2 separate regions of the Homo sapiens genome follow, and region 2 is linked to region 1. Evidence: fine-mapped expression QTL. A gene starts in region 1. The other region holds a variant in brackets. All regions are shown on one strand. Distances are from middle to middle.

Evidence for each region. PIP is the estimated chance that this variant, and not a neighbour inherited with it, causes the effect. A credible set is the group of variants that fine-mapping cannot tell apart.
Region 2: its variant is the best candidate, but not a certain one, in a credible set for the expression of PTGDS in pancreas (GTEx, PIP 0.72).

What each region holds. Positions count from the first base shown.
Region 1 is chr9:136,973,293-136,981,823 of GRCh38, reverse strand. PTGDS (prostaglandin D2 synthase) reads right to left here and starts at 4,320. Exons shown (of 7, transcript NM_000954.6): 1 at 4,132-4,320; 2 at 2,692-2,831; 3 at 2,525-2,601; 4 at 1,762-1,878; 5 at 1,540-1,641; 6 at 969-991; 7 at 82-245. The coding sequence starts at 4,245. The coding sequence ends at 969. It also overlaps LOC124902312. RefSeq lists an enhancer at 2,281-3,260.
Region 2 is chr9:136,603,682-136,615,771 of GRCh38, reverse strand. LINC01451 (long intergenic non-protein coding RNA 1451) reads left to right here. Exons shown (of 3, transcript NR_135288.1): 1 at 1-1,648; 2 at 2,869-3,069; 3 at 3,602-3,744. Among named protein-coding and RNA genes, the nearest start is that of LINC01451, 7.5 kb to the left of the region's middle. RefSeq lists silencers at 161-455, 10,905-11,085 and enhancers at 7,750-8,599, 9,450-10,299. The variant A/G (reference allele first, on the strand shown) is at 5,331.

The sequences.
Region 1 (8,531 bases):
AGATTTTAGAGGGGGAGGTCCGGGTGGCCAGGGCCAGGCCCAGGACGGGTGATGACAGCGCAGACAGCCAGGAGCCAGCTCTACTGACTTGCTTCCGGAGTTTATTGTGCAGGATGAAGCCTGAGTGGGCAGGGTTGCTTTGGCGGGGAGCCGGGGCAGGGGCTCGGGGAAGGAACAGAGCAGAGACATCCAGAGCGTGGGGGTCACCTGGCTGGCCGGGATCCCAGCTTCAGCCCTGGGGAGTCCTGAGGGGTGTGACCGAAAGGCTAGGATGGAGGACTGCAGTCTACCCCAGCCCACCTCCACTCCAGTCGATGGAGCAGGTGCGGGCTACGGGGACTTTTCTCTGCCCCCAGCCCCACTGAGCCCCGCTGAGAGAGCAAGATCCATCCCTGGGGCTTGGATCCCCGCTGCCCCAGGGTCTACAGACTCCACCCTTCCCAGCCCCAGGGTCCACAGACTCCAGCTCCAGCCTAGGCCTCCCTCCTGGGGGTGGTGGGTGAATCCGCCCTGAGCCTGCTCTCCGAGCTGTCCCACGGCATCCATGTAGCGTCCTTGGCCCTCCCCTTCCATCCCCTGTTCCCTCCCATCCTGTCTCCCCCACCCTGGTTTCCTCCTAGCCCAGGAGCCAGACACCCTTGCTGCCAGGTGGTCCCTGTGGTATAGCCCCTTGGCCTTGTCTGCCTGGGGCCTCGCACCTGCACCCCCCAACCATGAGCCTTCAGGAGTCAGCCCTGTTCCAGCCACTGGGACAGGTTTTCCTTCTGAGCCTCACACCTGTGCACCCATCAATGTGGGCAGCCCCAGTGTCTCCCGCCCGGCCCTGGACTGCAGCCATCGGGAAGGATGGGTCTGCAGCACCAGGCTGTCCTGGGGCCCTGATCCATCCCATCGCAGAGTGGGTTGGGTGGATGTGTGTTGAATGAATGAATGAATGAATGAATGAATGAATGAATGGAGTGGCTCACCTATTGTTCCGTCATGCACTTATCTGCCAAGAAAGAAGCCAGGGGCTGTCGTCAGAACCCCAGACTTAGGCCAATTTTCCCACTGGGCTTCCTGTTCCTCCCGTAACGCAGAGCTCGTCTTGACTGAGCCCCCAAACTGCACAGATCCCCCATCACCTCCCACCTCTCCCTGGGCACTGGAAACAAAGAGAGGGTCTTTCTCCACCTCTGCCAAGAGCAGGCTGTCCACCCCTAGGAGGCTGTGCCTGAGCCCAGTATGGTTGGTTCCCCTGTATCCCCCATGGGCACCCTCTACCCTATGCCCCCCACCAGGCTGAAGCCCCACATCCTGGGAGCTGCTGGGGCCTGGCACAGAGTGGGCGCCTGGTCTCCATGTCCCCCATGGAGGGGGCTCCTCATGAAGGGGCTGCGGGAGGGAGGTTCTGACTTGAACACTCACCCCCTCTGTCCCTGGCCCAGGCCTCGAGCAGGGCGGGGCCACCTCCTCCCCTCTGCCTCCCCCAGTCAGGAGACTGCCTGCCTGCCTCTAATCTGACCTTGATCCTCTCCCCATCAGATTAGGACCCCTCACCGGTTTGGGGCAGGAAGACAATGGTATCCTCTGTGAAGCCCTGGGCCTTGCAGAAGGCGGTGAATTTCTCCTTTAACTCAGCCCTGGGGGTCTGGGTTCGGCCTGGGACAGGGTGGAGACGGAGCTGGCCTCAGCGGGGGGGATGCTGTGTGCCCTGCCCTGGGTCTTGGGGAGCCCCCTCTGGTCAGGCCTGCGTGTGGGCGGCGTCCACGGGGCACGTACTGTAGAGGGTGGCCATGCGGAAGTCCTCGCCAGGGCCCTTGCTGCCCTGGCTGTACAGCAGCGCGTACTGGTCGTAGTCGGTCTCCACCACTGACACGGAGTAGGTGCTGCCCCAGTCTGGGAACCCAAGAGACAACCCTGTCGGGGACTCAGCCCCCCAAACCTCACCTCTGCTTCAGGGAAGGGGTGCACCTGTGGGCTTTGGGGGCACTCAGCCCCTCGGCTGGCCCGGGATGCTCCCCCACCCGGCTGCTCTCCAGCCAGTGCCCTGCTCTCGCCTGCACAGCCTGTGAACCCTGTCCCCAAACCAGAATCTGGGGGAGCCAGGCTCAGAAAACCAGGATTCCTGGTGCAGCCGCAGAAGTCGCTGCCAGAACCGGAAGTGAAGAGGTTTCCCCGTGGGAGCCATTCCCCAGGTGGGAGTGAGGAAACCCCTGGGTCCTGGGGAGGAGAATTGGGAGGAGGCATATGGAGGGGCCTTGGGGGGCTGCTTATGTGGGGAAAACTCCAGAGGGCAGGGAAGGGGCCTGACAAGACAATGGTGGGCTCCAGAGAGGATCCAACCCCCTGGAGGAAGGGTCTCTCTGTCCCTAACACTTGTGCATGGGTAGTCACGCCCAGGCCTGGCCTTTGCCTCTGACGCTGGTGGGGCAGCCATCACCTCCCACCCCATGGATCTCCGCGGCAGGGGGCTGGCCCAGAGTCGTCCCGGCAAGTGTCGCCCCCAGGCTGGGCCCAGGGGGCCGGTGGAGGCCCCACTCACGGGGACTCCGGTAGCTGTAGGAGCCGAGGGACCCCGCGGGCTGCAGCAGCATGGTTCGGGTCTCACACTGGTTTTTCCTGTAGGTGGGTGACCTCAGGGTCAGGGGTTAGGCCCGAGGGTGTCCCTGGACCTCTCCGTCCCAGAAACCCACCTGCCCGCTGTCCCACCTGAGGAAGGTGGAGGTCAGGTTGAGGCCACCATCCGTGGCAGGGGCCACCACAGACTTGCACATGGACAACGCCGCCTTCTTCTCCCGGAGCCAGCTCGAGTTGGAGGCGAGGCCCGCGCTGAACCAGCGCCCCAGGAACTGCGGCGAGCGACCCCCACCCGCGTCGGCCAGGACCCTCCGGACCCACCTGCGCCTACCTGCGGGGGCGCCTCTGCCGTCTACTCCTCCGGTCTCCAACCCGGCCCCGCCCCCACGCCCAATCCCCCGAGCAGCCACGCCCCTCACGCCCCGCCCCAGGAACTGACCCCCGCCCCTCAATCCCCGCCCCAGGAGATGACCCCGCCCCTCACATCTCCGCCCCAGGAGCTGACCACGCCCCTCACATCCCCGCCCCAGGAGATGACCCCGCCCCTCACATCCCCGCCCCAGGAGCTGACCACGCCCCTCACGACCCCGCCCCAAGAGCTGGCCCCGCCCTTCATGTCCACAACCAGGGAACTGACCGCGCCCCTCACGCCCCATGCCCCCCTAGGAGCTGACCCCGCCCCTCACGTCCCCGCCCCAGGAGCTGACCACGCCCATCAGGCCCCCGCCCCGCCCCGGGAGGTGGCCCCGCCCCTCACGCCCCGCCCCAGGAGATGACCACGCCCCACTTCCCCCTCCCCCGGAGATGGCCCCGCCCCTCACGCCTCAGCCCCAGAAGCTGGCCACGCCCCTGACACCCAGCACCCCCGTCTGGCCACGCCCCTCCCGAGGACAGTCCCTCACCCTCGCACGCCGCCCACCAGCCAGCTTCGGCCCCTCCGCCCCCGGTCCCGATTCTGTGCCCTGGCTGAGCGCCTGGCCCATACAGCGGGCGGCAGAGGACGTCGCATTCCTGGCGGGGATCGGGGCGGGTCTTCGGCTCAGCTCTGCGGACCGCTGGGGTTCTCCTCGACGCCAGGGAGGGGCGCGCGGCGCGGGGACCCGCGCTCCGGCGCTTCCCCGAGCAGCTCCCGGGCGAGAGCGCGCGTCGCCGGCTGTCTGTGCGGTGCGCGTCCCTCCCAACCCCCACCGCGCACGGAGTGTTTGTCGCCATCCCTGTGCCCCACCCGCCCGTGTCCTGGCACCCAGGTGTGGAACGTGCGCTCGTGTGTCCTCTGGGGGTCGCGTGCCCACAGGGGTGGACGTGTCTGGCTGGCGTGGGCGCGTGTGTGGCCCGGTGTCTGCGTGGCCCATCAGGGGAGACGGGACGCGGTGCCCAGGGAGGGCTTCTCGCGGGCAGCCTCCTCGGGCGGCTACCCAGCCTCCTTCCTGCGCGCCCGCTCAGTCCCTGGCCGGCACTGCCCGGCACTGCGGGACTTCGCTCACTCCTCCCAGGGGGAAGACCCAGCCGGAAAGTGCCCTTCCCCTGACAGGGTCCTGTAGCCCTTGGGGATGACGCAGGAAAGCCCCTCACCTTGTCCTGCTGGAAGTTGGGCTGCACGGAGACCTGGGCCTCCGGTGCTGCCTGCAGGTCGCCCAGCACCCCCAGCAGGGCCAGTCCCATCCACAGTGTGTGATGAGTAGCCATTCTCCTGCAGCAGAGCGGGTGTCCGGGGCCTGGTGCCAGTGGTGTGGGAGAGCGAGGGAGGTGTGCAGGAGGAGCGGAGGGCACTGAGGAGACCCCTATTTATGGGCCAGGCTTGGCCTCCACCCAGGGCCCGGGGACAGCCCACTGAACACTCGTGATGCTGGGGGATGGGGTGGCCAGGCACAGCTGCAGCCTCGTCCCCCACAGGGCGCTTATGCAAGAGGCCTGGGCCTGCTGCCCCAGCTGAGGCAGCGTGGGGGTGAGGCAGAGGCCCCTGCCCACTGGTCCCAGAGACAGAGCTGGCAGGGACCTTGCCCACCCTCCTCCTGCTGGCAGGGCCCACCAACCCAGCGGCCCTGATAGGGCAGGGGCTGTGTTCCTCAGCCATGCCCGCCTCCGAGGCCTCTGGTGACTTCCCACTGGGGGCCAGGACCCACATCTCACAGCCCCTACCATCATTCCCTTTCCGAGCCCTGCCACCCCAGAAGGGGACACAAGCCCCACTTCCACCCTGAGAGTTTGGTCCTGAAACGCCCAGCAAGTGAAGTGTTGATGAGAAGCTCAGGCCAAGGTAGAGAAACTTGATCTGGCCCGCAGGGTCCCGAGGGCCAGGTTTGCTGGGCATGGCTTCCCCCATGGCCAGCTGTTGGGGCTCTGATAGTGACCCCTGGGTGCCCATTTCAGCCTGGGGCACCTTTGGGCTTGAGCACAGGCCCTATCCCTTGCCAGAGGCCCCAACTTCCCCCAGCAATCCCCCCACCCCAAGTCTGCCCCCCGCCGAGTCTGGGCCTCCCCACCCCGAGTCTGGTCCAGACTCGGGAGCACCCCGTGGGGCTGTCCTGTTACCCCAGCGCTGCACCCAGCTCCTTGGGCCCCTCCAGCTCGTTGGCCCTGGCTGGGGCCCTGTCACAGGCCGTCACAGGCAGGCACATGTGGTGGGCCCTCTCTGGATTCTGTTGGGACTGAGCTTCCCTGGCAGGCGTGGTGGGTGAGCGCTGCCGCTGGTCTGAAGGTGAGCCCGGGTGGGGAGCTGGGAAATGTACATGAGAGCAGGAGTGAGTCGGATGGGGTGGGGTGGTGAGCTTCTACGGGGCTGCTGGCGACCACTGGGGGCCGGAGCCCGTCTTCTTCCTGGATTCTGTGGCCCATCCCTTGCTGGGGGCGCACGAGCCCTGGGAGTGGGCTGGTGTGGACTGCTTCCTTGTTCCCCTTCCCCAGTGCCCGGGGGTCAAGGAGCCCAGACTGGGGGAGGCGCATGCCTATGTAGCAGCAGGGGCTAGTGGGCAGCACTGGTGTCAGGGCTGGTGGGGGTGGCCGGGTAGCATCCCAGGCAGAGGCCAAGGTGAGGGAGTGAGTCCCAGGGAGCCGGGAGGCACCTGAGAGGCAGGGAGAAGGAGGGCAGCGGTGCAGGGGGGCCAAGGCAGTCCTGAGAACCCACTCCTCCACCTGGACCTCCTATCAACCCCTGCCTGAAGCAGCAGCGTGCTGCTAGCTCAGATGCCATCTGTGCCATGGGCTGAGAGGGAGAGTCTGTTGGAACAGATAGGGGTGGGGTGCCTAAACCCGGGACCCCGCGTGGCCCGCAAGCCTGGCTCAGCTACAGAGCTGGGGGCTGCCGTCAGGACAGGGGAGGGGCAGGAAGAGAGTTGCGGCTGGGATATCACCACAAGACTGGCCTCCTGCCCGCTGCCAGCTGAGTCCTGGCTGTCATTCCACTCTGGTGGGGCTGGTGGCTCGCTGACTGGCCTGGCTGGAGGTCCCAACCCAGGCTAGGCTGGTCCAGGACAAGAGCGCCTCCCGGTGGTGAGCAAGCTCTGGGGTGTGGTGGCGGGTGGCCCGGGGCAGGGAGACCCAGGACACGTGGCTCTGGGTCTGAATGGCTTCCGTCTGGGCAGGCCTGGGTCACCTGCCAGGGAGGGACTCTGAAGTCTGATGGGGCCGGGTCCTCCCATAGCCAGAGGGGTTCCCAGGGATCTCGGGTGTCCAGCCCTCAAACCCAGTGCCTGGAACAGGGACCAAGCCCCTCCTCTTCCCCATTTTCTAGTGGGCTGCAGAAAGCCCAGCAGGTCCCATGTCCCTTCTCCTCCCTGACCAGTCGTTACCGAGACCATATGGTCGTTGGCGCCTGGAGAGCTGGAAGAGCTAACAGGATCATGCTTCGGTTCAGGACGGACTCCTCAGTCCCTGTGGTCAAGATGGCCAGCAGGTGGTCAGAGACACTCCCCAGACACGGCTGAGTGAGGACCAGTGAGTGGGAGCTGCCCACGAGCCCTGATTCATGGGTGCACCTGGGCCCACCCGAGGGCTGGAGATTCATCTCTCACCACATCCAGGAAGGGCTGGGCAGTTGCCAGCTCCTGGCACGCCAGATTTCTCCCCTCCTCCCCCGGCTAGGACTGTGCAAGGTGGACAGGGGCAGGAGGGACCTTCGCAGAGCCTCTTGCAGCTTGGGCAGGGACAAGGACCACCCTGCACACTCTCTGTGCCCTTCCCTTTGCTCTGAGCTTGGCTGCCAGGCAGGACCTTAGTGGAGCCTGGCGGAGGGCTGGGCAGGAAGAAGGCTGGCCGCCCCACCCTGCTCTCTGGGAACCAGTCTCTTTGAGTCACAAAATGCAAAGACTTGGCCTCCACCCTAAGAGGTCACCAAGGCCATCCCCCTGCCTGCGGCCCAGGCAGGTCATGGACAAGCCTGGTGGCCTGGGCCTAAGCTCCCAGAACTGACCCCAACCTTTTCCTGGAGGGAAGCTGTCTCCACCCTGGGGCCCCGGCCAGCATCCTCCGGGGGCAGTGATGACCCTGTCCAGCATCCCCACCAATGGTTTGCCCTTGAGGGCCGAGGCTGTCCCAGTGACTGGTGGGAGCTGAGCTCGACTGAGTGTCCACCAGCCTCAAATAAACTCATGGGGACCTCGTGAGCCCCACCCACCTGCAGCCTGGGATCAACTCCCCCAGCCTGGGACTGGGGAGGGGCAGCCTCTACACCCCACCTTTCAGAGGTACCCAAGCCTCACGGCCCCAGAGGCTCACTCCTGCCAGAGCTGCCCCGCTGAGGATCTTCCATAGGGAAGGGCAGTGCCCGGGATCACTGAGACGCTGTGGAGTGTTCTGGACAAGTCAGGGGCAGAGCAGGAGCACCCCTGAGATTGTAGCCGGGGAGACCAGGGCCGGGTGCGGTGGGGGCAGCTCAGGGCTCCTCTAGGGGCAAGAAATTCTCCCCAAGGCCTCCCTGCGTCAAGGGAGCTGCTCTGTGATTGAAGGAGGCCTGAGTGGACGGGCCACGTGGGACAGCCCCTCCTCAGGGCATCTCTGAGCTGCTCAAAGCACATGGGACCCACTCTTCACCCAGCCCTCCTCTCTGTGCCTGTCTGTTTGGGTGTTCACTGACATGGGGGACGGCCACCTCTCCGCTCACCCTTTCTGGCTGCCTCTGGCCACCTCTCCCAGCACCACCCTGGAGGTCAGGCCCGCCCAGCAGCCGGGGACGGCGCAGAGGACAGGGCAGCCCGGGACAAGCCAGAGGATAGGGGAGCAGATATGTCCCTGGGACTTGAGGCTCATATGTGCATTGCTGGCCATGGGGTCCAAAGACGGTTATGGCCAAGCCTCAGCCAATTCTGCAGCTTTGGAGCCAGGGCTAGGCTGGCTGTCTGTGGGGGACAGATGGCAATTTGGGGGTGCTGAACGATCTGTCCAATGTGGGGTCCAGCAGGCTGGTCAGAGGCTGCCGCATCCCAAAGGTAGCAGGGCCGGGAGGAGGGGGCGGCCCAACCCCCAACACCACACCCGCACCCACACCCGACACCACACCCACACCCCTGGCCTCGAGAAGCTCAGCTCCAGGATCCCGGTGCAGTGGACCTCTGAGGCCCAGTCTGGCTTCAGGAAGCGCCCAGCTCGGCCATGGAAGGTCAGGGCTAAAGTGTCCCCACCTCACCCATTTAGGGGCTGGGCGGGAGCTCCCCAGGAGGGCAGGGTCTGGGCAGGGGCCAAGCCTGGGAGGGCCTCGCCTAAGGACCCCTGGGTCACTGTAGCACCAGGCTGGGCACCGCTCCCCACAGAGACCAGAAGCCGGAAGTACCATTCAGCGCAGGGGCTGGCTCCGGCAGGGCACAGGTGGAGACCCGATCCCAGAGGCTGCTCCCCACCTCTGTGCCCACCCCCGGTCAGGGCTGGGCCTGGATCTTCAGGGACTCCTGCCTCCCATCGGGGGAACGTGGGGTGGCACACAGGGAGCCTGGGCCCACGCCCCTGAGATGGGGGCTCCTGCCTCTCACTCTGGGGTTCCT
Region 2 (12,090 bases), 370 kb after region 1:
GCACCATCCCTAGTCCCAGAGGGGAGGTGGAATGAAGGCAGGGCTAAGGCCAGGCTGCATGGAGGCAGAGGCACCTGCCGGCCTGCAGGACCAAAGGTTCTATTGGAGGCAGTGCCTGGGCAGACAAAGGCCCTCAGATTCACAAGCTGAAGCCCTAGCACCCAGGGCCCCAGTGTGCTACTGTGTTTGGAGACAGGTAAAGGTTGTCAAGGTAAGACAGGGTGGCCCTGATCCAATATGACTGGCGTCCTTGTAAGAAGAGGAGATTGGGACAGACACGCCCCGAGGGATGGCCATGTGAGGGCGCCTCAGGAAGACGGTGTGCAAGAGCGGGAAGCGGGGCCTCGGAAGAGCCAGCCCTTGGATCTCGGGCTTCCAGGAGAATCAGTTCCTGCAGTTGAAGCCACCAGGGTCTGTGCAACTTTGTCACAGCTGCCCGAGCTGACAAATTCACCTGACTTAAGCCCCCCGCCCCACCCGACCACAGTGTCACCCAGATGCTTGGCAGGTGCTGTGGCAGGGGCTGGGTCCCTGCTCGACCTTCGGGTGCCGGGGTGTCCCGTATAAGAGCAGCACAGCCACCGCCACGGCCACTCGCAGTTCCAGGCTCCGGGCAGCATCTGGGACCCCAGTTCCTGTTGTGAGAGGCTCCCCACTGCCATCCCACCCCCTGCAAGGTGCCTCGGAGAGCGGCTGGAGGCTGACGGGTCGAGGCCTGGGTTTTACGGTCCTGCCTGGGTTTCTGTGTGGCCTGGGGCTGCCTACCATCTTTCCCTCTCTGGTCCCCCCTACTCTCATATACCAGGCTGGGTGACTGGGGCCCAGGAGCGGCCCCCCCCTCCTCTGGGCTTCCTGGTGGCACCCCTGGCCTGACAGCCCCTGGGAAGGCCTCCCCTCTCCATCTCGGGGCCCAGCCCGGCCCCACCTGCTGAGCTGCAGCCTCCAAGGCCTCCTTCGCACGCGTGTCAGCTCTGACCTCAGGGCTCCCCACGCGTGTTCCCCTCTAGGAAGGCCCCCCCAGGGGCTCCCCAAAATCCTGTCCTCCCTGAAGCACCTGTTCTTCGTGCTCCTCCATGAGGGCCCGCACGGGGCCGCTGACCGCAGTCTCAGTCACAGCCTGGGAGCGCCTGGAGGTTGGGGGGCAGCAGGCGCTCAGTCAGTCCTCGGGTCACCATGGATGGCCTTGCTGTGTGATCCACACTGAGGCCCAGTGGTCAGCTGGGGGGCTGGACAGGAGGCAGCCACTTCCTGGCCTGGCTGGTGACTCACAGGCCCGTTTCTGGGAAAACTCCCACCCACCCCCACTCAATCCGGATGGCGCAGAGCTCGCTGTGGGGACCAGCTGTGGGAAGTGCATTGTGATTAGGGGCCGGGTCTGGGGGTGGGGAAGGCGGGAGCCGGGGCGGAGGGTGGGGTGGGGTGTGGGACGTCTCCACCAGAGGCCTGCCTGGGCTGCTGAGCTGTGCATCCCGTGTGCCCTGACGCTCCACATGCTCCCTCACCGGGCAGGGGTCGGGGGCCCCGAATATCATCACAGGGAGACCACACGAGGCTCCTGCCTGAACCCCTCCTCAGGTCCCTCACGCTCAGGGGTGCCTGGCCCAGCCTCGCCTTGCCCAGCCTTGCCAAGGCCAGCACAGCCCAGGAGGTGCACCCCCTGGGGTCCCACAGCTCCGAGGGGCAGCGGGTGGCCGAGAATGAATCCGCAGGGCTCTGGCTGGATGCTGGAGGAAACAGGCTGCTTCCAAACGGGGCTAGGACGTGGGGACTGTCCCCCCAGGCTTCCCCGGCCAGAATCCAAATGCCATTTGCCCAGCCGGGCCCTGGAAAAACATCCTCTGGGAAGACTCCGGGGAGGGGAGGAGGCCTCTGGCTGGGTGGGGAGCAGGGCCCAGGCCTGCTGAATAAACACCCAGGGACCCTGCAGAGTGAAAACAGAGCCACAGCCGGCCAGCCCCTCCCAAGCCCATTTGGCTTCTGCAGCCCTGACCCTGCTCAGGGAGTCTGGGCAAGTCTTTTTTGTCTTAACAGCTTTATTGAGATACACAATTGGCCCTTGATCAATGGGGGACTCGGGCGCCAACCCCACACAAAGTTGAAAATCCTTCTATTTATATATATTATAAGGTCTCAAACTCTTGACCTCAAAAAAAATATATACATATATTTTTAGACAGTCTTGCTCTGTTGCCCAGGCTGGAGTGCAGTGGTGCAATCTCGGCTCACTGCAAGCTCCACCTCCTGGTTTCAAGTGATTCTCCTGCCTCAGCCTCCCAAGTAGCTGGGATTACAGGTGCACGCCACCATGCCTGGCTAATTTTTGTATTTTTAGTAGAGATGGGGTTTCACCATGTGGCCAGGCTGGTCTCGAACTCCTGACTTCAGGTGATCCGCCTGCCTTGGCCTCCCAAAGTGCTGGGGTTTCTATATTTATTTATTTATTTATTTTTTGAGATGGAGTCTCGCTCTGTCGCCCAGGCTGGAGTGCAGTGGTGGGATCTTGGCTCACTGCAAGCTCCGCCTCCTGGGTTCACACCATTCTCCTGCCTCAGTCTCCTGAGTTGCTGGGACTACAGGCGCCCGCCACCATGCCCGGCTAATTTTTTGTATTTTTAGTAGAGATGGGGTTTCACCGTGTTAGCCAGGATGGTCTCGATCTCCTGACCTCGAGATCCGCCCGCCTCGGCCTCCCCAAGTGATGGGATTACAGTTGTGAACCACTGCGCCAGACCCAAGTATAACTCTTGATTGCCCCGAAACTTAACTACTCATAGGCTACTATTGACCAGAAGCTTTACCAATAACATAAACAGTCGATGCACGTTTTTGTATCGTGAATGTGTGATATAGTGTGTTCTTACAATACAGTAAGCCAGAGAAAAGAAAATGCCATTCGGAAAATCCTAAGGAAGAGAGGATGCATTTCCTCGTCTCCACGTGGAAGCGGATCACCCTAAAGGTCTTCATCCTGGTCTTTTTCATGCTGAGGAGGCTGGGGAGGAGAAGGAAGAGGAGGGGCTGGTCTTGCTGACCCAGGAGCAGCAGAGAAAGGAGAAAATCCACGTGCAGGTGAGCCCAAAGTTCAAACCCGCGTTTTTCCGGGGTCGGCCGTAATTCACGCTCCATGAATTTCTCCACCGACAGTGGCGATTCCACCATCTCCAGCACGTTCAGCTACGTGCGGCCGTCACCACCGTCCATTCAGGACATTTTCTTTTTTCTTTTTCGGACGGAGTCTCGTTCTGTCGCCCAGGCTGGAGTGCAGTGGCGCGATCTCGGTTCAGTGCAATCTCTGCCTCCCGGGTTCAAGCAATTCTCCTGCCTCAGCCTCCCGAGTAGCCGGGATTACAGGCACGTGCTACCACCACGCCCAGCTAATTTTTGTATTTCTAGTGGAGATGGGGTTTCACCATGTTGGCCAGGCTGATCTTGAACTTCTGACCTCAGGTGATCCGCCCGCCTCGGCCTCCCAAAGTGCTGGGATCACAGTTGTGAGCCACCACAAAGCCTGGCCCAGAACATTTTCATCAAAAATAAACGTCATCAGCCCAGCCCCAGCCCCCCAGCCATAAAGACCCACTCAGCCACCTTCTGTTCCCAGGGGCTGGCCAGCGCTGGGCTTCTCGGGAATGGAATCACACACGGACTGTGGCGTACACATCACAACTTTAAACCCCGTCCGTACTGAAGCCTGCGTCCGAATTTCTTCTGTTTTTGTGGCGGAAGGATAAATATTCCATTGTACAGACGGTCTACCCGGTTCATCCGTCACCCACCCATGGGCACCCGGGCCGTTTCCACCCTTAGTGAAGGAAGCCGCACGGGTGTTTGTGCGGACAGGAGCTTCCGTTTATCTTGGGCGCACACCTAGGGGTGGAGTTGCTGGGTCTCGTGGTGACTGGTTGTTTCGGGAGCTGCCGGCAGGTGACCCAGCAGCTGGGCCGGTCCACATTCCGTCCAGCAGCGTGCGAGTCTCTGATCTTGGCGCCCACACCCCTGGCTGGCTCTCTCCTCCCTCCGACTTCGCAGCCACACCGGAGGCAGGTGGCAATGTGAGTGGGGACCGGGCACGCGCAGGGGCTGACTCCACACCTCGCAGGGCTGGTCTGCAGATCTCCCTGGGAGGCAGGAACATCACGCCCCCATTTCAGAAGAGGATGCTGGGCTCAGAGAGGCCCACCAGCAAGTTGGGCCCTCACTGGCCACTTCCTCCATTCTCTGGACTCGGCAGGAACTCAAGGTGTGCGGTCCCTCCCTCGGCGCCCAAGCCCCACACTGGGCCTGCCCTGGGCATGAGTTGGCCATTGGACCTGAGGCTGGAGAACCTGCCTGGGACAGAACAAAATTCAAGTGTGAAGTTCTGGAAGGTTCTGGAGGGTTCCAGAGGCCTCCTGGAGCTCCCTGGGTCCCCTGGACTCCACATGAGTGGCCACCCAGCCTGTGGTCTACGGCTGCCTAGGTTCACCCCCTTGGTCCCCCAGACACACACAGGGCAGCCCTTGTGTTCCTGGGGCCGCTGGTCCTGCAGCGTGAGCTGCCACCTGTAGGGATCCCTCCCTGCCTGCCCACACCTGCCCCCCACGGCCGCCCCCCCTGCCTGGCCGCACCTGCCCCCCACGGCCGCCCCCCCTGCCTGGCCGCACCTGCCCCCCCACGGCCGCCCCCCCTGCCTGGCTGCACCTGCCCCCCATGGCCGCCCCCCTGCCTGGCCGCCCCTGCCCCCCATGGCCGCCCCCCCTGCCTGGCCGCACCTGCCCCCCATGGCCGCCCCCCCTGCCTGGCCGCACCTGCCCCCCATGGCCGCCCCCCCTGCCTGGCCGCACCTGCCCCCCATGGCCGCCCTCCCTGCCTGGCCGCACCTGCCCCCCATGGCCGCCCTCCCTGCCTGGCCGCACCTGCCCCCCATGGCCGCTTCCCCTGCCTGGCCGCACCTGCCCCCCATGGCCGCCTTCCCAGCTCAGGCTACAGGGAGAGGCCAGAACCTTTTCTGCTCCCGGAACCCACCGTCCACTGCTGAGCGCTGAGTTCCCAGCTCTGCGGCTCTGACCTGACCTCCCCCTCATGCCCATATCTACTGCTGAGCGCTGAGCCTCGGGCCACACAGCCTGGGGCAGAGGTCAATGGCTCAGTGCCTCATGGAGCAGCTCATTGGCAGGGGCCACACCCCGAGGCCTCCTACCAGCAGGGTGGACGTGGGGGCGCAGGCTTGGAGTCCAGGGAGCCTGGTCCCGAGGGTGGGTGCCCTCCAGCGAGTCCCGTCACAGGGCTCCTGACTGGCCTGAGGGTCAGCTCCCCTCCAGCGCCCGTGGGGTGGGCTGCCATCTCCATTT[A/G]CAGAGGAAACAGGCCTGGGGGCTGTGGCCACTAGAATAATGCTGGAAAACACCGAAGTCGCCCTCCCCTCCGCCCCCCCACCCCCCTCCCCCGCCCCATGCAAGTCCTGGGCCTTGTTGCTGTGAAGCCGACACCTGGCCCTGGGAGCCCCAGAGGACGGTAGGTTCTGGAGCGCAGGGCGGCGGGCTGTGCAGGGGCTCTCCAGTGCTGCAGTCACATCGCCTCCCCAGGCCTGGCTGAGCTGCAGCCCCACTCCACACAGCAGCCCTCGGTAACCCTTTGGGCAGGACCACCCTGCCAGCTGGCTTCCTAGAAACTGCCGCCCTTCCCTGCAGGTGCCTTAGGGAGGTGGCAGCTGGCCAAACCTGCCCGACTCCCTGGTCCCTCTGTCCCCTGAAGCCCATGAGGGCTGGGGAGCCTTCTGATAGCTCTGCCCTCCACTGCCCGGCCCGGTGGGAGGGGCAATTCCACTGGCAAGCACTTCTGGCAGGGAGGCAGCATCGCAGGGAGGGGCGGGGGGAGATTGGATACCCCAATGCCACCCGCTCGTTCCAAGGCGCATGCCAGGGCCATCTAGTACCCCAGGGCGCAGGGGCGGCAGCCTTCCAGGCAGCGCAGACCTCTGGGTCACCCTCCAAGCCCCAGGCCTGAGCGCTTGAAGGCCTGTGGCTGCTGCCACCACCCCACAGATGGGCTCTGGGGGACAGAGAGTGCCCAGTCTCCTCCGCACCTCAACTGACTTGCTCCAGGCCTGGCAGAGCAGGTGCTCGGAAAAGATTTGCCGAGGGAAAGGCAGAGAAGCCGCGGTCCTCTGGCCCGGCTACAGCGGTGCTTCCCAAGGAGCTGCTCACCCTCAGAGCCACTGTTCCTCCAGGGGCCTCCCCTCCGAGCCTGACCTGCCCCCAGCCCGACCTGTCCCTAGCGGTGATGGTGGAAAGTGGGTCCCCAAAAAGTGCGGGGGGTTGGAGAGGGGGCTCAGGAAAAGTCTGGGGCCCGGGGCCAGTCAGTGGGTGCTGGGAGGGTTATCTGCCAAGAAATGTGACCTTGGGGCAGCTGGCTGGGGGTGCAGCAGGCACTGGGAATGTCCTGTGGACACCCTGGAGGGGCAGCTGCAGGGAGGGGCCGCGCAACACTGACCGGGAGTTGCCTGGAGCCCCTATTTGGCCATGGCCGCCCACCCGCCTGGCCCTGCCCTGGGGGCCTCAGGTTCCTGAGATAGGGGTCTGGGCCATATTCCAGGGGAGAAGACCCCCACTCTCCCTGGGATGCCCTCCTCAGAGCAGGGGCATGCCATGCCTTCCCTTCCCCCAGCCACCAGGTACCCCGCCTGCCCGCAACAGACCCGGGGGAAACACACTCAGTAACTCTTTACAGCCTCTCCAGGAAGAGCCCCGCAGAGGGCAGGGGCGGGGAAGGCCCCATCGTCAGGGCCATTTGCTGGAGCTTTGGGCCAGTTTTCCAGGGCCCCTGAGCAGATGGCCCCGGCCCGTTTGGCATTTGTCCCTCAACAAGGAGACCCCGCAGCTCCTGTTTTCCCAGGAAGTGGGGCCAGTGCCCAGAGGACAAAGAGACAGAAAGAGACAGACAGTGAGACAGAGAGACAGTGGGAGACTGACTGAAGGAGAGAGACCCAGTCAGGAGAGAGTCACAGAAGCATCCAGAGAAGATGGGGAGGAGAGATACAGACCCGGCCGAGAGCGATGCGGAGGGGCTTCTGCAGGAGGACCAGGGAGGCCAGGCTGGGCCCCACCCGGCGCCCCGGGCACAGGGACAGGGGAGGCACAGGCTGGATCAAAGATCTTTGAAATTGGGATCAAATGCTCAGGTTTTATTGGTGCTCTTACTGTGTAACTGTGTAATTGGGGCAGGGACAGTGAGGCTGTCCCCCTGGGAGCCACTTCAAAGGCTAAAGGATTCCTGAGCTCTTTTCTCCCTCCTTCCCTCCTTCCCTCTCCCCTCCTTCCCTCCCTCCCTCCTCCTTCCCTCCTTCCCTCCTTCCTTCCCTCCCTCCTCCCTCCCTCTCACCTCCTTACCTCTCTCCCTCTTTCCCTCTCCCTCCTTCCCTCCCTTCCTCCTCTCTCCCTCCTTCCCTCTCCCCTCCTTCCCTCCCTCCCTCCCTCCTACCTCCCTCCTTCCCCCTTCCTCCCTCCCTTCCTCTCCCCTCCTTCCCCCTTCTCCTCTCCTTCCTTTCCCCTTCCCTCTCTCTTCCCTTCTTCCCTCTCTCCCTCTTTCCCTCCCTCCTCCTTCTCTCCTTCCCTCCCTCCTCCCTCCCTCCTTCCCTCCCTCCTCCTTCTCTCCTTCCCTCCCTCCTCCCTCCCTCCTTCCCTCTCTTCTTCCCTCCCTCCTCCCCTCCTTTATTCTTCCTCCCTTCTTTGAGGACAAAGCCATGAGGGAGGGAATATGTTTCCACCAAGCTGATGCTGACTGTGTACCTCCTCTAGGTGTCCTCAGGCTGGGCTGAGGACGCAGAAGGGAACTGCCAGTCCCTGGCTGGCACCAGGCTAGCTGGGGGGCGGCAGCTCTAAAAGGACCATGTGGGCAGAAAGGTGTTGGGAGCAGCAACTCAGCAGTCAGGGGTGAGGGAGGCCTCCTGGGCCAGTGAGTTGGCCTTGGACTGTTGAGGAGAGAGAAAATCACCTCCCTCCTCCTGGACGTTGGGCCTCTGCTAACGTCACCAGCAGGCTCCACACCCTGGTATCCTCACGCAGGTGGCTCTGTTTGGTGTCTCAGCCCAGGTGCTCTGACCCGGCCTTCATTCCCTCCTGGCCTTGTGGGAACCATCCAGCCGCTGGATCTGTGCGGAGCTGTCCAGCTGCTGGGGGCCAAGGCAGGGCGGGGCGACTCCATGCTACAGCCGTGGGGGCGTCACTGTCCGGGCCCTCCCCGCACAGCCTCCCTGGTGCATGTTGGCTCCATCTGGAATTAGCCACTGGGCCCACCCCCTTGGGTCCCTGGCCTGGGAACCCTCTGCTCCGCCTCCCCAAACACCTGTCCAGACCAGCTGCCCCTGGGCGTCCGCGGGCCACTCTGCCCGTCAGCTCCCCTCCTGCCCCAGCTCTGGTCTTTGGGACCCCACCCCTATGCAGGGTAGACTGTGGTCTTTGGGTGTGGTTCTGTGTGTCTCTGGCTGGGACCCCCTGAGGACAGGACCAGGGCCAAGGTTGCAGCTCAGGGCAGCCAGTTGGCAAACTCAGGATGGACCCAACTTAAAAGTGCCACGAGCAGGTGGGGGCATCACAGGCCAGGGCACTGCCCACACTGCCAGCTGGCAGCCCCACCGCACCCCAGGCCCGGGAGAAAGGGCCCGGCTGCCACCTCAGCCTGGATGGAGCCCACGCTTCTGCCTCAAGGAGGCAGGGTACTCACAGGCACCCAGAAACTTTCCCTCCCTGCCAGGGGCCAGAGGCCTTTGAAGTTGGAAGGGCTGGGGGCGGATGAGAAGGTCCAGGGGTGTAATTAGAGGAGGCGGCTTCACTCTCACACGTACAGTAAAGGTGGCTGCTGACTCCCAGGGCGGAGCCGGCCTTGCTTGCAGGACAGGTCCCTGTGCAGGGCCTCTCAGCTTCACGGCCACGTGGCTTCTCCCTCAAGAGGGCGGCTGGCTGGACGGGCTCCCCTCGAGGGCCATCCACTCCTCATGACTCCACACAGAGGGAGGCCAGGCAGAAGGGGGATTCCCAGAGGCCGTCCCTTCCCACTGCCTGGGCCTCCCAGGGGCCTTCGGGGTAACGTCAGGGCTTGTGGGTGCCCCCGTCTCCCAGCAGCCTGACACAGGTGTCCAGCTCCCGTTTAGAGAGCAAAGTGGGGTGTGGGACCCCAGCAGTGCCAGCCTTGTTGGGAAGGTTTGGGGGTTACATCTCAGCTGGACCTAAAGAGAGACAGACACTCGCTGGGTGATCCAGGGCAGGGGTGAGGGGCACTCCAGGCAGAGGGAAAGCCTGGACAGAGGCCCAGCAGCCTCATGAGTTTGGGGGCCTTCAGGCAGCTCAGTGTGAGGGCCTGGATATGGGACGAGGCTGCAGAGCTGGGCGTCTGCAGGGCGGAGGGAGCTGGAGGCCTGCTGCAGGCTCCCCTGGCCCACAGAGCACGGCTGCACCCCTGAGGCTGGAGCAAAGCTCTGTCCCTGTGCCTGGCTCTTGAAAGTGCCTCTGTAGCCACCCAGGCAGCTGGCGTCACCCAGGTCTCTCAGGCAAACAGCCGGCCCCGGGGCCTTGCCTCTGGCGGGTTGGAAATAGCCTCAGGTCCTGCCTGGGGCCCAGCCAAGAGCTGCCGTCCAGGGGAGGGGCTTGGAACGGGATTCCCCCTCTACATCCCACGTGGCCCGGATCCTATGGTGCCAGCCACACTGGTGTCCAGACAGACCTCAAACCCCCAGAACACGCCTCCTGGGTTTCCTTCTGCCCAGCGCTGGCTCTCTGCCCTCCTCCCGGCCTGGGCACAGGCCTTGCCTGAGGCCCCAGCACTGAACCCACTGCTGTCTCCACCGATCCCGATTGGCTTGTTTGGTTGGAGGATCAGAGCCTGCACACACTAGGGGCCTGGTAAAGACTTGTTAAATGGGCCAGGTGCGGTGGCTCATGCCTGGAATCCCAGCACTTTGGGAGGTCCGGGCGGGGAAGATCACTTGAGTCCAGGAGTTCGAGACCAGCCTGAACAATATAGGGAGATCTCATCTCTACAAAAAAAAAATTAAAAATTAGCTAGCATGGTGGCACGCACCTGTAGTCCCAGCTACTCGGGAGGCTGAGGCAGGAGGCTCTCTTGAGCCTGGGAGGTCAAGGCTGCAGTGAGCCAATATTGTGCCACTTATGAAATGAATGAGTTACTGTAGAACTAAACGTGGAGATGACGAGAAGAACGTGGATTTGAGCAGTTGCAGCTCAGGCGGCCTGGACTCCTTTCCTCTCACATGGAGCAGACGGGCGGCCTGGGCAAGCCCTCAGGGGTGCTGAGAATTGTGGCCACAGCTATGAGGCACAGGGCGCCTCCAGGCCCGAGAATCTGCTGGCCGTAGCCCTGCTGACCCTCGGCTGCCCAGCACTGAGTGGCCTCTCCTGACCCAGGCCCCGGTGCCCCTGTGAGCCCCAAGAACAGGAAGCCGGGCTCATGTTCCCCGTGACCCCAGGAGGCCGAGTTCACTTTCGCCGTGATCTCAGGAGGGCCACAGGCTCTTAGAACAACCCGGGAGGCAGGAGGGCCCTGAGCTCACCTAGCTTCCCTGTGGGAACCCAGCACCCAGTCCTGGGGTGCCATGGCCTCTGGTTCCCACCTTCAGGCACCCTTGGCCAGCGGAGCAGTGAGTACATGGAGAGCCTCCAGCCTCCTGCCGCCCTCCCCTGCCCCAGCGCTGCTTGCTGTCCCCTCCAGCCTGGACGTGCAGTGTGCTGGCAGCGCCTGAAGAGGCAGGGCCCTGGGCCTGGGCAGGCCCCCAGGCGGGCGGTGGGAGGGGAAGGAGCTGATAAGCCAGTCAGCATGGCCCTAACAGCTTGGGCAGGCGGAAGCCCGGAGATGGAACCTCGGGCACCCTCGTGGAAAGGGTGGCCTGGGTGGGGCTGGGGGAGGGCAGGGGATTCTGGGCTGAAATTCGCAGACAGTGGTGGAGGCCCAGGCCCCCGGTCCGATGCCTCTCTGAGCCTGTGTGGGGCAGCCCCAAGGCATGGGGCTCAGCCTGTGGCGGCTTCCAGCTTCCCCACTGACTTGCTGGGAGACCCCAGGAAACCCCCTCCTCTTGAAAATGGGGGTGATGTGCCTGGCCATGGCCATCCGTCAGAGAAGCAAGTGGAGCCCAGCAGGTGGGCTATCACGGCAGGCTTCCTGGAGGAGGGGGCTTTCCCCCAGCCCTTTATGGATGGTGTCCCAGCTGAGGCGATGGGGAAGGCAGTTCTCGATGCGGAGCTGGGAGGACCTGCATGTGTTCAGGGTGCGGTGGAGGGACACCTCGTGCTCATAGGCAGAGGGGTTTGGGATGAAGCTGGACTTCGGGGAGCCCAGATTTGGGGGCTGACTTTTGGGCAGGGGAGATTGGATCTTGGCACGGGGGCGCCATAGAGGGCTCCTGATGGGAGGGCCTGGAGTCCCAGGCGATAAACCTTCCCCGCCCTGCGGGCAGTGCTCTCCCTTCCTTCCTCCCTTCCCAGGCCCCGCCTAAGCGCTGATTTGGGGGATGGGAGAGTGCAGGCGGTGGGACCGGGGATATCCTGTCCAGGAGCCACCCCGCCGAGGGCCAGGACGTTGCCCACCCCGGCCTCCAACCAGCCGCTCGGACACACAGTCCGTCAGGAAGTCCCAGCCCTGCCTGGGGCGTCTCTGAGCTCAGCGAGGTGGCAGCTCCTGCCGGAGCCGTCCCATCCAGCACCTCCACCCACCATGGCCCTCGGCCCCACCCACGAGTCACCCCCTCCACCTGCCGGCCCCCATGGCCCTGCATCTCCCAGCACCCAGACCTCCCTCCTCCTCTCCTCATCCCCAGCCAGCACCTGCCCCACCCTCCACACCTCTAACCCCGACTTCTCCAGCTACTTCCTCATCTCTGCAATGGCCATTTGGGTTTCTTTTGGGGACAGCAGACACCTTAGCTGTGACACACAGCATGGGCCGTCTCCCTGGAAAAACGCACAACATTTCACACCCAATTTTCAGAGTCTCAAGGAGTTCCAGACCCCAGGAGGCTCACCTGTGGGCCACCTTGGGAGGAGTCCCTGGGCCTCAGGCTAAGCTCTCACTGGAAAGGAGGTGTCTCTGCCTTCTGACTGGTGGGGA